Linked DNA regions of Homo sapiens. The protein of the gene in region 2 interacts with the protein of the main gene of each other region in a pairwise test. Each region holds a gene or a part of one and is shown on either strand. Other genes may lie near its edges.

Region 1 (4,455 bases), on a different chromosome or scaffold from region 2:
CAAGAAATCTTGCACAAGGTGGATTTTACATGGGGTATCATGCACAAGATTAAAAACAAGACCAAAAGGTGGAAATTTTAAAAGAGGAAAATATAAAGGCTCCAAGGTTTAACTGCTCTGGGTAGAAGAGATCACATCTGTTGACTGAGGATCACAGAAAGGCCCAAAACGTCCATAAATATCCTTGGCTCGTACTGCAAAGTAGTATTTGCTACCAGATACAAACTGGGTGAGAGTACATGCCATGGGCAAGGGAAGTGCCTTGACTTCCCCAATCTTTTTCCATTGTGAGGGCACAGTGGCACTGGGTTCCTCATGGTAAGCATAGAGATGGTAGCTATCAACAGTGGCACAGCTTCGATCCACCTCCAGGACACTCCATGACAGTACTATGCCATTTTGACTCTGAACGCGTGCTAACTTCAAGTGTGGCTTCTGAGGCAGAGATGTGCTGGCAGCTTCTGGGGGCAGACGCTGTGGTTGTGGAGCTTCTGGTAAGGGTGCTGGGTGCACGGGGCGTGGGGGCTCCTGAAGAAACAGGTCACACTGATTAATGATGATTGCAAAAAGAACTATTTTAGAATGTTAGAATTAAAACACCTTAGAGAACATACGTAGAAGTATCATTTTATATCAAGAATTCTAGGAAATACCAAATACCATATCAAATTTGGCAAGTTCTATTTGGGGTTTTGTAATGAATCATGCTACAAACAATGATGCTGAGGTTATTCCTACTATACTTCCTAGACCTAAAATATTTTGAGTTTTTCTTAGGAAATAAAAAGCCCCTGCTGACGGAACATCATTTTGAGGAACACGGAAGTAATGATCTATTTCTAACAAAATAATTTATGATTGAATTATCTATGTTACAGATTATCATTTCAGTATGATGTAACATTTTTAAATATCATGTATGGCAACCAAGATCATATAAAATTGGAGAATACAAATATACTTTCATTTTTAAGTTATTTATAAATAAGCACATTAACACTAAATGTGTACTATATTCTTGGCCAATTTACAAGAAAAAGGTGATATTTAAACTCAACTGTGAAGGAGGATCCAGAGATGCAGAAATAATCATGTACCTTTCAGCCAAAAATAAAGCATGAGCAAAGGCATGTGGACAGTAAAGTGAGGGGACGTATGGACAAGAACAAGTATTAACTTTTTCTTGGACATAGGGTACATGAAGAAAAATCTGGAAAGGTAGGTTAAGGCCAGATGATGAAAAAACATGACTCTAACTTTAGGAAGTCCTATTGACTTTTCTAACACTGGAACATCATCATCATTATAATGATATTTCATACCAGTCAAACACTGACAAAATTGTGTCACAGGATAATGTGACATTGTTTTGGAGGCTAAATCTAAGGAGAAATCTTTGGTTATCTCTGTTACCTCTTAACTAATGAATTCCCAATATCATTGGATTCTTTAGAACAATTAATTGATGACAATGTAGCAGTTAGATGTGGCATAGTTTAGAACGAAAGAATAAAATTAACACATGGAGAAATGAAAAATGTCCTTTTTAATTTAACTATGAATTAGAAATGGTCTATATTTCACTTCATATACCCCAACTGTGGACCTGTTTTTGTACACTGTACACCACAAGCAAACTCAATGATTCTAAATGATCATCATCCCTAGGAACTATGTGTTCATAATGGTAAGATCAATTTTTAGAAATAAACTTCTGAAAAAGCAGGAAGACCTAACACTTCCCTTGGATATAACCATTTTAAAGAAAAATGCCAAATACAATAATATTTTATACCTCTACAGTTGAGAATTTTGCAAAACCAAGCATCAACACTTACAGTATGCACTTGTGGTGGTCGGTGATGCACTGTGAGCTGAGGTCCTGTTGATCCCAGGGTTAGTCCATTGTTTACAACATATGTGGTTGTTTGAGGCACTCGAACTGTAACACCTACAAACAAACAAAAAAATTACAGGATAAAATGATAATTCTATTGTAAATTTGGTGGAAAACTGATTAAATATTTGAAGGCAGTGAAGCAATGTTTTCAAGATTCGAAAGGAAAGATATTTCTAACCTAGAGGTCCTGTTCGTATTCAGCCAAGCTATCAATCAGCCTGTGGATAAAAAAACTTTCTTACATGCAAGCACTAAAAAAAAATTCTAACTACCACAAACCCTTTCTCAAATAGTCAATGGAGAATATGTGCCACCAGTACGTGAGAAAATAAAGAGAAAAACACGAGACACAAGCAACAGGAGGTCCAGCACAGGGAGAAATAAATGGATCGTTACCAGGAGAACTATGAACAAAAATCCTAGAACACTGGTTGTGTACCACATGTAAAAGGTAAATGGCCATAATGGAGCAGTGTGACTCAAAAGACAGACAAACTGGGAGTATCTTCATAAAAATCTCTGCAGTCTCATCTTTTCAACCAGGACAGAAAGCCAGAATAAGTCATCCTTGCCATGTATTAATGAGGTTCCTCTCATTTTCTCCATGCCCAGCTCCTTGGTTGAGGATACTCACTTCACCCCACAGAAAACTGCTGTGACATACACCAGGGAAACAAAAAGAGAAAATTTAGAGCCACCTACTGCCCTAACTATATTCCTGCCATTTATTCAGTACCTGGCCCATGCTGTAGTTCGGCCTGGTTCCTGGACTATAGTGAGCCAAGTTTCCCAGAACTCATTTCTAACCTTGTTGATTAATTTTCCCAGACAACGCTCTTGTAAACTTGAGAGAGTTGAAGCCAAGCTATGATCCAGGGACTCCAATCAGTTTATTTTCTAAATGATAGCATTACTGTGTTTCTTTAAATAGCTATATTTTCCCTTGCTGTCACATTTTGCAAAACTACAACATATGTGTGATGGTTAATACTGAGTGTCAACTTGATTAGATTGAAGGACACAAAGTATTAACCCTGGGTGGGCCTGTGAGGATGTTGCCAAAAGAGATTAACATTTGAGTCAGTGGACTGGGGAAGGCAGATCCACCCTTCATCTGGTGGGCACAATCTAATCAGCTGCCAGAAAATATAAAGCAGGCAGAAAAACGTGAAAAGGAGAGACAGGCTTAGCCTTAGCCTCCCAGCCTACATCTTTTTCCTGTGCTGGATGCTTCCTGCCCTGGAACATTGGCCTCCAAGTTCTTCAGTTTTGGGACTCAGACTGGCTTCCTTGCTCCTCAGCTTGCAGACAGCCTACTGTGGGATCTTTTTTTTTTTTTTTTTTTTTTTGAGACAGAGTCTGGCTCTGTTGCCCAGGCTGGAGTGCAGTGGCATGATCTCGGCTCACTGCAACCTCCGCCTCCTGGGCTCAAGAGATTCTCCTGCCTCAGCCTCCCAAGTAGGTGAGATTACAGGCTTGTGCCACCACACCCAGCCAATTTTTGTATTTTTGGTAGGGATGAGGTTTCACGATGTTGGCCAGGCTCATCTCGAACTCCTGACCTCAAGTGATCTGCCTGCCTTGGCCTCCCATACTGCTGGGATTACAGGCGTGAGCTACCATGCCCAGTCTATTGTGGGAACTTCTGATTATGTAAATTAATACTTAATAAACTCCCCTTTATATATATAAACATTCACTATATATAAAGTATTTTACATATATTTAATATTTATATATAATTAAGATATACTGTATATATATAGTAGGATATAAAGTATATATACAATTAGTTTATATGTAGTATATATTTTATGTATATACCCTATTAGTTTAATACATATATAATATATAAAATATATATATCCTATTAGTTTATATATAGTATATATTATATGAATACTATATATAGGAAACATATGTGTATATATACATATACACACACACATATATATATATATATATATATATATATATATATATATATATATATATATTCTATTAGCTCTGTCCCCCTAGAGAACCCTAATTCAGATTTTGGTACCAGGAATGGGGTCCAGAGGAACAGAATATTAAGGATGGAGTTCTTTCATTGGTTTTGGGGTTTCTGGAGTTGGCTGCTTAATGTGATTAGACCCAAAAATGTTAAAAACTCTAATTCTAATAGTATAGAGAACACTGATAGTCCCTGGTGTGAACTGTTTAGAGGGTTATGCAAAATAAATGCATTTGACACTCCTGATTCACTGCTTGTGGGAAGCAAGGAGTTTAGTGACTCTATACATAATACCTTGGACCATATGTGGAGAACCAAGGAACATAATGAAGCTGGTCAGTTGCTCCTAAGTGCAGTGGAAAAAGTGATGAAAGAAAATGATGAACTCAAGGATTCTGTCTCTCAGCCTCAGAAGAAGATACTGAGGCTCAAAACTGCTAAGATTGCCCTGAATGAGAGTCTTATCTCCTGTAGAGAGAGCGCTGAAGTTGTGGAAAAACAGACACAAGCTCTTATCATGCGAGTGTCTGACCTGCAATGAAAGATACATGCACAGCCT
Region 2 (5,410 bases):
GGCGCCTCTTGGTATATCAGGGAGACCACAGAAGAGAAATCTGAACCATGAGGTTAATTTGGACATTCCAAACAGAGACACCTGTGATTAAAGAGGGCTCCAAAAGAGCCAGGATCCTGCTCTGCCACTCATCTGTCTCTGATCCCCCTTTCTAGTCTCTCCACCATTTCCCCTAGCTCATCCTAAGACTGACTTGTTCCTTGGAGAACTGCGTGGGATCTCTGGGCGGGCAGTAGACTCAAGAAGTAGTCTGCATGTCGGGGGTGGACATGTGGTAATGAACACATGCTCATTACTCCCATTGTGACCTGACCAGGGCCACTGCTGTGTTGCAGGGTAGTCCAGGAAGGGGATGTTCTATGTGTGCCAACAATTGGGCAAGTAGAGATCCTGGAAGGAAGTCCAGAGAAACTGCCCAGGTATGCAGCTGCCTTCTGTCCTACAGCTGGGATTTGTAACCTGGGTGCATGAGTTCTACAATCCCCTCCCTGCAAATCATGTGTAATTTGTGCCCAAGAGGATTTCGTTGTCATGTATTTTGTGTGTGCGTGTGTGTGTGTAACAGGTTCTTGCTCTGTTACCCAGGCTGGAGTTTAGTGGTGCAAACACAGCTCACTGCAGCCTCTACCTCCATGGCTCAAGTGATCCTCCCACCTCAGCACTGCCTCTGCCCCAGTAGCTGGGACTACAGGTTCGCATCACCACGCCCAGCTATTGGTTTTTGTATTTTTAGTAGAGATAGGGTTTCGCCATGTTGACCAGGCTGGGCTCGAACTCTTGAGCTCAAGTGATCTGCCTGCCTTGGCCTCCCAAAGTGCTGAGATTACAGGTGTGCACCACTCACCCCCAGCCTGTGTACATTTTTTTGGAGAGAAAATTCACCTGTCCTTCAGTTCCCAAACAAGTGTATGACTGAAGAAAGGTTAAGAACCAGTCAGGCATGGTAGTGCATACTTATAATCCCAGCTACTCAGGAGGCTGGGCAATATAGCTAGACACTGTCTCAAAAAACAAGCAAACTAAAAGAACCACTCCCTGCTGGCTTTGGGAGGTGTTTATCCTCAAACTGACTGGTGGCCCTATGTAAAGCAAAGCACTAAGAAGAGTTTAGGCCAGGTGTGGTGGCTCACGACTGTAATCCCAGCACTTTGGGAGGCTGAGGCAGGCAGATCACTTGAGGTCAGGAATTCAAGACCAGCCTGGCCAATATGGTGAAACCCTGTCTCTACTAAAAATACAAAAATTAGCCGGGTGTGATGGTGGGCATCTGTAATCCCAGCTACTCAGGAGGCTGAGGCGGGAGAATCACTTGGACCTGGGAGGCAGAGGTTGCAGTGAGCCCAGATCGCATCACTGCTCTCCAGCCTGGGTGACACAGCAAGACTCCATCTCAAAAAATAAATAAATAGGTAAAATTTAAATTCTTTTCTTTTTAAAGAAGAGTTTAATGGCCTAGACCAAGACGGGATTCCTTCCTTTCCGTTCTTAGCCTTCGTGTTATTTGGACCAAGACTTGGGCCATACCATCCATATCTCAACGTAAGGATATACAGGCTCTGATTTCTGCCTTAACTACGGAGTGTGCACAAACTACTTCTCAATCCTATCTCTGAAAACAGGAGAGGGATTTCTCTTTTTTTTTTTTTTTTTTTGAGACAGAGTCTTGCTTTGTTGCCCAGGCTGGAGTGCAGTGGCGCAATCTTGGCTCACTGCAAGCTCCGCCTCCCGGGTTCATGCCATTCTCCTGCCTCAGCCTCCCAAGTAGCTGGGACTACAGGTGCCCACCACCACGCCCGGCTAATTTTTTGTATTTTTAGTAGAGATTGGGTTTCACCGTGTTAACCAGGATGGTCTCGATCTCCTGACCTTGTGATCCGCCCGCCTCGGCCTCCCAAAGTGCTGGGATTACAGGCGTGAGCCACCGCACCCAGCCAGGGATTTCTATTGTTTTTGAGAGGGCTACCCTGTCCTATCAACAGAGAATGAGAAATAGAGCATAACCGAGCCAAGAACCCAAAATAAGGAATCCAGCTTTTCTCCTCTTGTTGACTCTGACCACAGAGGTTCCATGTAAAATGGTGAGGCAAAGAATTGAGACACTGCTTTAGCCTTATGTGTAGGGAGGAAAATGTATAGCTCTGTATCCCAGCATTCCCTGTATTCTGGACTCATTTCCTGCAGCAGTTTACTAGAAGGAGAGCACAGCTGATAGATGCACTAACTCATACATAAGAGCCTTCATGTCCAAGGTCTGTGGCATAGCCAGCCTGGGTCCTCTGCCAGGAGAGACAGTCCTTGTTTGGAGTGCCTGATGTTCATCCCTGGTCAATATCCAGTGCTTGGTTCTGGCCAGTGCTCAGTACCCCCAGTCTCAGGGTGGTGGTGCTCTGTGGAACCCCATTTAGGCTCCATGTCACCTCTTCGAGGTTTTCCAGATTAAGTCCACGAGTCTGGTGGAAAATGCCAGGCTGGCACTTAGCAGTCACTTCCCACCTCTCTCTCCTATCATAAATTTAGCAAACGTCTTTGAGCTAGCTTTCAGTAGGAAAACTACAGAATGCCCACTCTTTGTACTTTCAAAGGAAAATAGGCACTAGAACCTCATGAGACAGGCTGGCAAGCCAGTTCTGTTCCTGAACTTCTATTGTCTCAACTCTGTAGAACCCTGCTTTCCTCCTGAGTGCCGAGCACATAGTTCTTTTCCCCGCAAGGAAAGCAGGGTTGGAGTAAGTGGCCCAATGGGTCCAAGGACAGATACAGATGAGCGTTTTAAGCTGCACTGGGCTTGAGAAGGGAAGCCCTGCAGAAGTTCCTGTGAGCCCTGGAAAGGAATTCCACTGTTGGTGTAGCCTCTTCATCCTGTCCCTGGTGCTCCACTTCCCCAAACCAGGCTGCATGGGAGCCAGCTCCACTATCACCTATCTGGCTGGCTGGAGCACAGCTCAGTGTTCCTTAGCAGTGTCCACATAGGTTCCAGAGCTCTGGCCTTTCTATTCACTGAGGTGGTCCAACCACCCTCCACTGAAGAAGGTGGTCTCTCCCTATGCCACAGTGCTGTCCCCCATCTCATTCCTATGCAGGGCTTCCATGGTGAGTCATACACACCATGACTCAGCTGTTGAGCTTGATCGAGATCCTAGGTTAGAGGCCCACTGTCACCTATTTATAATTAATTATAGGCAGATTCAGGCTTCCTGATGTTCCAGGTTTACTGTAGTACTTAGAAGAGTTTCATAATACTAACCTGGTATGCTTCCCCTCCACCTTGCTGCACTCTCACACCCCTTTGCTGCTAGAGAGAGCAGCTTTGAGACTGTGGGGCAGTGTGAGCAGAGGAATTTGCAGCCTGATTGGACCTTAAAGAGGACTAGGTTATAGCCTGACTCTGTCATTGCCTTGCTGCCTGAGGATTAAAGAGGGAAGTAGTTCATGATTTCTTTATCTGGAAAATTGGGTTAGTAGCTGTTCCTGCTACCCATCCTATTCCCCGTTAGTAGGTTGAATAACCCTAACTCACTATGACACTCGCCAACTACTGCGCAGCCCTGGTTATGCATCAGAATTGCTGGGGAAGCTTTCAAAAAATACAGGTGCCTAAGCCCCACCCCAGATCTATTGGGGCAGAATCAGGGTGAGACTGGAGCCTGTGCTTTTTTTCCTTCACAAAGGAAGGAGAAAGGTTAATTTTAAAAACATAAAATTCACACACCATAAAACCATACTTTTAAAGTATACAATTCAATTTTTTTATTCATAAGGTTGTACAGCCAACATCACTGTTTCATTCCAGAACATTTTCAACATCTCAAAAAGAAACTCTGCACCCATTAGCAGTCATTCCCTGTAGCTTCCCTCATAGGCAATGGCAACTGCTGATCTGCTGAATAGAATCATATAATATGTGAGAAATGTTTAGTTTTTAAAGTTACACAGATAATTCCAATGTGCAGCCAGAATACAGAACCATTATTCATCAGATGGCATTATTAAGGACTCCGCCTGCAATGAGATTTTGTGGATTATTGAGTAAGAGCCAAGGGACCCTTCCCCCTAGGGTTTTTGGGGCCTGGATGGCTGTGTATTTGAGGGGGAGACCGAAGCCAGTAGAAGTAATCAGATGATCCACTGCTTAGTGCAGCAGCAGCTTCTCCCATTGGTGTGGGTGGGTAGGCCACATGCCTGGAGAAACACACCCCCTCAGAGCTCTCATGGCTGTCATGGGGGATGCAGAGGGACAGGCATAGCTCTTGCCCTCAAGGTGTGTATGGTCTGTCAGGAAGATGAGAAAGTCCATCTGCATTCCTTTTCCCCACCATGACTCGGGACACGCTCTTGTGGTGCTTTTGTTTGTCCTCTGTGATTGAGAAACCTTGTCCTTGAGGAGGGGGGTTTTTGGACTCTGGATCTGGGGTTCATTGGGCCTTTTTCCTGCAGGTGGCGGGAAATGTTTTTTAAAGTGAAGAAAACAGTTGGGGAAGCTCCAGATGGACCAGCCAGTGCCTACTTGGCCGACACCACCCATACCTCCTTGTACATGGTGAGGCCCCAAGGATGGGTGTAGACCAGCGCAGGGGGTAGAAACGATTTTTAGAAACGAAAGCTTTTTATTACCTTTCACAGGTGGGTTCTACCCTGAGCCCTGTTCCATGGCTCCCTTCAGAGGAATCCACTCTCTGGAGCAGTTTGTCTCCTCCAGGCCTGGAGGCCTTGGTGTCTGAACTCTGTGCTGTCCTGAAGCCTCGCCTCCAGCCAGGGTGAGTGAGGTCATCACCCCAGGGTGTGAGAAAAGCCTGCTTAGAACATCCCTGGAGGAGCAGCAGCCAGATGGGTAGTTCCTAATGAACTGGCCAGAGTGGGATTGGGAGGACCTTCCTCAAACCAGTATGTCCTACACAAGGCCACCAGGCCACTCCTTTCTGTAAGCCAATTCCCAGGCTCCTTTCCTGGGATAACCTCTGTCCTCCAGGGCTGGCTCTGGAGGAAGAATCTCCAGCAGGGGCATCTGTTTCTGAGACTGCCCTTCCCCTTGGGGAGCTCACTGGCCATCCTGCACTTTACTGCCCTGGCCCTGAAGGACACAACTCCTCATACCAGTGGCCCAGGTGTGGACGCAGATCCCCACCTCAGTGCCACCACAATGTCTCTCAATACCATTCAGACCAGTCATAACGTTGAGGTTTTATTGGCAGCACAGCAATGCCAAAGGGAATTAATTAGTCTTTGGCTGTTGGATATGCTGGATGCCCCGGCCAGAGCACCGCAGGTGGTGTGGGAGACACAGCCTCACTACATGGGGACAGCCCTGTCCTGGGGTCAGGGAGGCTCAAGGAGAGAAAAACAGGGTATCTGCTTTCTAGATCTAAGGGATCTTGTGTTACTGGGGACTCTAATGTTTGGGCAAAATGAAGGA
Region 3 (4,455 bases), on a different chromosome or scaffold from region 2:
CTGCAGTGAGCCGTAATTGCACCATCACACTCCAGCCTGGACAACAGAGCAAGACCCCGTCTCAAAAAAATGACAGCCACAACTGATTTCCCAGTGAGGCTATGGCCAAGGCTGGATGACCGTTGTGTGCCACTCTGTGTGTGCCCATCCATACCACTGTCTTGGGGAGGCCAAGGTCAGCCAGGTGGAGAAGTTGCCAGCCATCCACTAGACCAGGGCCAGCAAACTCAGTCCAATCCTGCCGTTCACCTGAGTGTCGTCTGTGGGTGCCTTTGTGCTTCCACGGCACAGTAGGCAGTTGCCAGAGACCGTGGCCCGCAAAGCCGGTAACATCTCCCACCTGGACCCTTACGGAACACGTTTGTCGGGCTCAGCGCCTGTGCTCTGCCGAGAGCTTCTCTCCGGGAGCAGTGGCATTTGTCTGCGGCCTCTGTGCTGAGGCACGTGGACCAGGACCAGGTGGCCACGCCCTGCAGAGCGCGGCGCTGAAGCGCAGAGGTGCACTCAGTTCCTCCATTGTGGCCTTTCTTACTCTGTACTGACTGATTGCCTTTGATCCATATCATTAGCGGTGTCTCCCATTCCTGGGTTCTATGCAGTGTAGCCACGGCATTTCATCATATTTTAAGGATAATTTTTGTTTTGCATCTTAAGAAAATTCTTGAGAGTCCACTCATATAAATTTCATGTGTCATATTGAAGAATAATTTGTCCAGTGGAATGGGAGAGTAATAAAACCACCGCCAACCGAGGAGGCTTCATATGCTTATGGCTTTTCCAAGTGCTCATAAATGCCTTCTCTATTACATGTTTTCTGAACATATTTTCCTTTACTGGAACAGCAGTTGCCCAGATAAGCCAAGGCTTAGAAACGAGCCTCTGAATGCAGTTGCTAATTCACGAGCTTCAGGGTCGTCACTTTTAAGGGCCTTTTCTACCTTGTTGGGAAGAAACAAGCCCTAGAAGTCCTGAGTGAAAAGCAGCATGGTGAGAACATTCCAGTGCACAGCAAGGGCCTCGAATCCAGGCCGGTGAAGAGATCACGCATGGGCAGCAGAGCCGCACGTGCCGCTCAGGTGACCCGTTGCTAGTGGGTCCTGGCAACCACACACGGGGCTGTTATGCTTTGGTCACCATGGAAATTCCCGGGAGGTGCCAAGTGTCTGGGCTTTGTTTTCCAACAGCTGAAAGACGATGCAGTTGCCCTGGTAGACGTGATCGCTCCTCCTGACTTTGTTCTGGACTCACCGATTGGCAGAGCCGACGGCGAGGTAAAGGGAGGACAGGGCCTCACGGGAGTGCCCCAAGGGTTGATGGGCATTTCTGCGGAGCTGAGATGCTCCTGTGGGTCAGGGGTCTGGTGTCTTCTGGAAAGTGGTCACACATGGAGGAGCTTCTTGGGGAGGGCCCGGGACAAGTCAGGACTGTCTCACTCTGGTGCTTCCCCATGCTGGCTCTGTGGTTGCAGGGGACTTGCCCATCCCCTGCCTGCCTTTTCCTCCCGAGATGGGGTGGTGGCACTGCCCGCCTGCACAGGCAGAGGTTGGAGGTCCACACACTGTGACCTCTGCCCTCCTCCCACTCCCCCCGGCCTCCCCGGTCCCAGGTCTTACCCCCATCTGACCATGCTCCTGGCCCTGCAGGCCTCTTCCCCCATCCCTGTCCTGGAATCCCCAGGCCCCTCTGTCCCCTCTGACCATCCATGGTTGTCACCGGGGTTACTCTCCCCTGCCCCGCTTTCCCCCAACCGCCTCCCTGTGGCTCCTCAGCTCTCCTCCTGCCCCCCATGTTCCATAATGATTCCTTCATAGCAGATGGGGTCAGGCCGCCCCCCTGAGGGAGCCTCCACCAGCCTCCTCGACTGCCTGCCACGCCCCAGCCCCACACAGCCACTGAATCCTTCCAAGGCCCTTCACCCCACGCTCCCCTCCTGCCCACCAGATCTAGCCTTACTGGCCTCCCCGTCTGTCGCGCCAGGCCCATGCCCACCCCAGGGCCTTGTGCCTGCTGCTCGGGCTGCCTGGAGTGCCTTCCATTCTTTCAGTATAAGCTGACTATTGCTGCCTTGGAGAGGCCTTCTCTGGCCTCCAGCTGAGGCAGTGCCCCCAGGCACTGTAGTGCTGCCCTTGCTGGCCTCATCACTGACCTTGTGTCTCCCTCCCACCTGATGATGCCCTCGAGGAGCGATGCTCACAGGTCCACTGGGTGCCTTCCAGCACCCCACTGCTTATGGGGCTGTGTCTGTCTTCTGCTAGAGGGACTCGGCGTGTCAATGCTCATGTCCCATGCCTGAGGTCCCCTGGCTGTGAGTCACAGAGGGGTTTGACCCCATCCCTGCCCCCTGGCCCCGCAACTGAGTTATTTCTGCTGAAGCACCTGCTGAAGCACCTGGGTCTCTGCCCAAATGGAGATTGAGCCTTAGTGGGCAGGACCCTCCCTCAGTCCTCAGGGAATGCTGAAGTCTGTACATGAGCCCTTACCGGCTTAGCCAGGGAGGGCCCAGCGCCTGGCCTCAGCGCGGCCCAGGCTACACCTGGGTTGGGCTAGGTGTGCCAAGAGGCAGGTAGTGCCAGGAGCCGGGTGGGCAGGGCAGGAGGTGAGAGTTCCCCGTAGTAGGAGAGGCAGGGATGGTCATCTCTGCAGAGGGCCTGCTGTCCTGCATCGGGGACTGACCACTGACCATCCCCAGAGCCCATACAGCCCAGATGATGACTGCCGCTGAGAGCTGAGAGCCAGAGAAGCCCAGTGGGTTTCCCAGCCAGGGAGTGGCAGAGCCAGGATTTGAAGAGACTGTGCCCTGCTGTAGGGAGAGAAGACTTGGCGGGAGCCTTGGGTCCTGGGGGAGCGCATAGGAGAGGGACTTGCCCTACCCACCTTCCTGGGAGAGGCAGTCTCCCCAGGAGGTGGGGGCTCACCAGGCAGACAGGCATTCGAAGGGACACTGGAGCCAGACCCGCCATGGAGGACCCCCAAGCACACGGGACTGTCTGCCCCGTGCAGGAGAAGCCGGAGCGGCCTTGAGCGTCTACCTGCTGTGCCTTGCTCTGCAGAGGCAGGCCCGTCTCTGAGGCAGGGAACGACCAAGGAAAGGAGAGACCTTGCCCATGATGGAGGGGCCCCCTGGCTCTGGGTTCCATAGTTAAAACCAGAGCCAGCTGGAGGTGTCGCTGGCAGGATGGTTTATTAAACGTGCATTCCTGGCTGAGCATGGTGGCTCACACCTGTTATCCTAGCACTTTGGAAGGCTGAGGCGGGCGGATCCCTTTAGCCCAGGAGTTTGAGACCAGCCTAGGCAACATACTGAAACCCCATCCATAAAAATTACAAAAACTGAGGTGAGAGGATCCCCTGAGCTTGGGGAGGTCGAGGCTGTGGTGGGCAGTGATCGCGCCACTGCACTCCAGCCTGGCCAACAGGGTGAGACCTCATCTCAAAAAAAAAAAAAAAAGTGCATTCCTTCCAGTTGCAAGGAACTGGTGTATTAACCAGGAGCTGCCAGGTGAGAAATTCACTATAAGCGAACAAACAGAGCTGCAGGGGAGTTGAGACCATCCTTAAATCAAGCCCGCTGCTCCAAACTGTGAAACATAAGCTGGAACCTAGGCCCTGTGGAGCAGCAGCCTGGGTCTGTGTCTGTGGAGCCCAGAGTAGCAGAGTGGGGAGGAGGGGTTGCTAAGTGCATTTAGCGGGTGCAGGCAGAGGGGTTTCTTCTCAATAAAATGGGTCAGCGTAAGCTGGATACACAATAGACCACCTCCCCAGGCCCTGGAGATGGTCTGGGCTGCCCCTTTCCACCCTGCACGGGTGAAGTGTCTGCTCAGCTGCCCTTCGCCCTTCATTTGTACAACCTTCCTCCAAGACAGGAGCGTCTCTCCCCATCTTCCCAGTGAGGCCACTTAGGCTGAGAGCAGTGAAGTCTGCACCTCCCGTAGGGGAGTGCTGGCCCGGGGCAGGACCAGAGGAGCAGGGTGTGGTGGCCCAGGTCCAGAAATCAGCCAGTAAGGGCCACTCGGCGAGGGCATCCTGCTGCTGGTGGCCACGTGCCACCTGTGCGGCCTGTAGCGGCCTGGGGTGTGAGAGCAGATTTCAGAGCAGCAGTCGATGCAGCCTTGCAGCATCCTGCGGTGGCTGCAGTTACTAAGAAACAGCGTGTCCACTGCCACGATCAGTTCTTTTTTTTTTTTTTTGAGATAGGATCTCACTCTGTCACCCAGGCTGGGGTGCAGTGGCATAATCTCGGCCCACTGCAGCCTCAACCTCCTGGGCTCAAGTGATCCTCCCACCTCAGCCTCCCAAGTAGCTAGAACTACAGGTGAACTCCTCCATGCCCAGTTAATTTTTTGCTTTTTTTTTTTTTTTTTTTTTTTTTTTTGTAAAGATGGGGTTTCGCCGTGTTGCCCAGGCTGGTCTCAAGCTCCTGAGCTCCAGTGATCTGCCTTCCTCAGCCTCCCAGAG

What was found. The genes of interacting proteins can lie anywhere in the genome.
Region 1: the proteins of PEX6 (region 2) and ATF7IP interact in a two-hybrid assay, tested with the Homo sapiens proteins (one large-scale study listed by IntAct).
Region 3: the proteins of PEX6 (region 2) and ACOX3 come close enough for resonance energy transfer, tested with the Homo sapiens proteins (one large-scale study listed by BioGRID).

The regions. Positions count from the first base shown.
Region 1 is NC_000012.12:14,493,727-14,498,181, reverse strand, and holds part of ATF7IP (activating transcription factor 7-interacting protein 1), read right to left. Parts: intron 1,952-4,455; coding exon 1,839-1,951; intron 529-1,838; coding exon 109-528; 3' UTR 1-108. UniProt on the Homo sapiens protein: Recruiter that couples transcriptional factors to general transcription apparatus and thereby modulates transcription regulation and chromatin formation. Can both act as an activator or a repressor depending on the context.
Region 2 is NC_000006.12:42,969,012-42,974,421, reverse strand, and holds part of PEX6 (peroxisome biogenesis factor 6), read left to right. Parts: intron 1-335; coding exon 336-419; intron 420-4,434; coding exon 4,435-4,537; intron 4,538-4,620; coding exon 4,621-4,754; intron 4,755-5,410. UniProt on the Homo sapiens protein: Component of the PEX1-PEX6 AAA ATPase complex, a protein dislocase complex that mediates the ATP-dependent extraction of the PEX5 receptor from peroxisomal membranes, an essential step for PEX5 recycling.
Region 3 is NC_000004.12:8,367,724-8,372,178, reverse strand, and holds part of ACOX3 (peroxisomal acyl-coenzyme A oxidase 3), read left to right. Parts: intron 1-1,184; coding exon 1,185-1,271; intron 1,272-4,455. UniProt on the Homo sapiens protein: Oxidizes the CoA-esters of 2-methyl-branched fatty acids.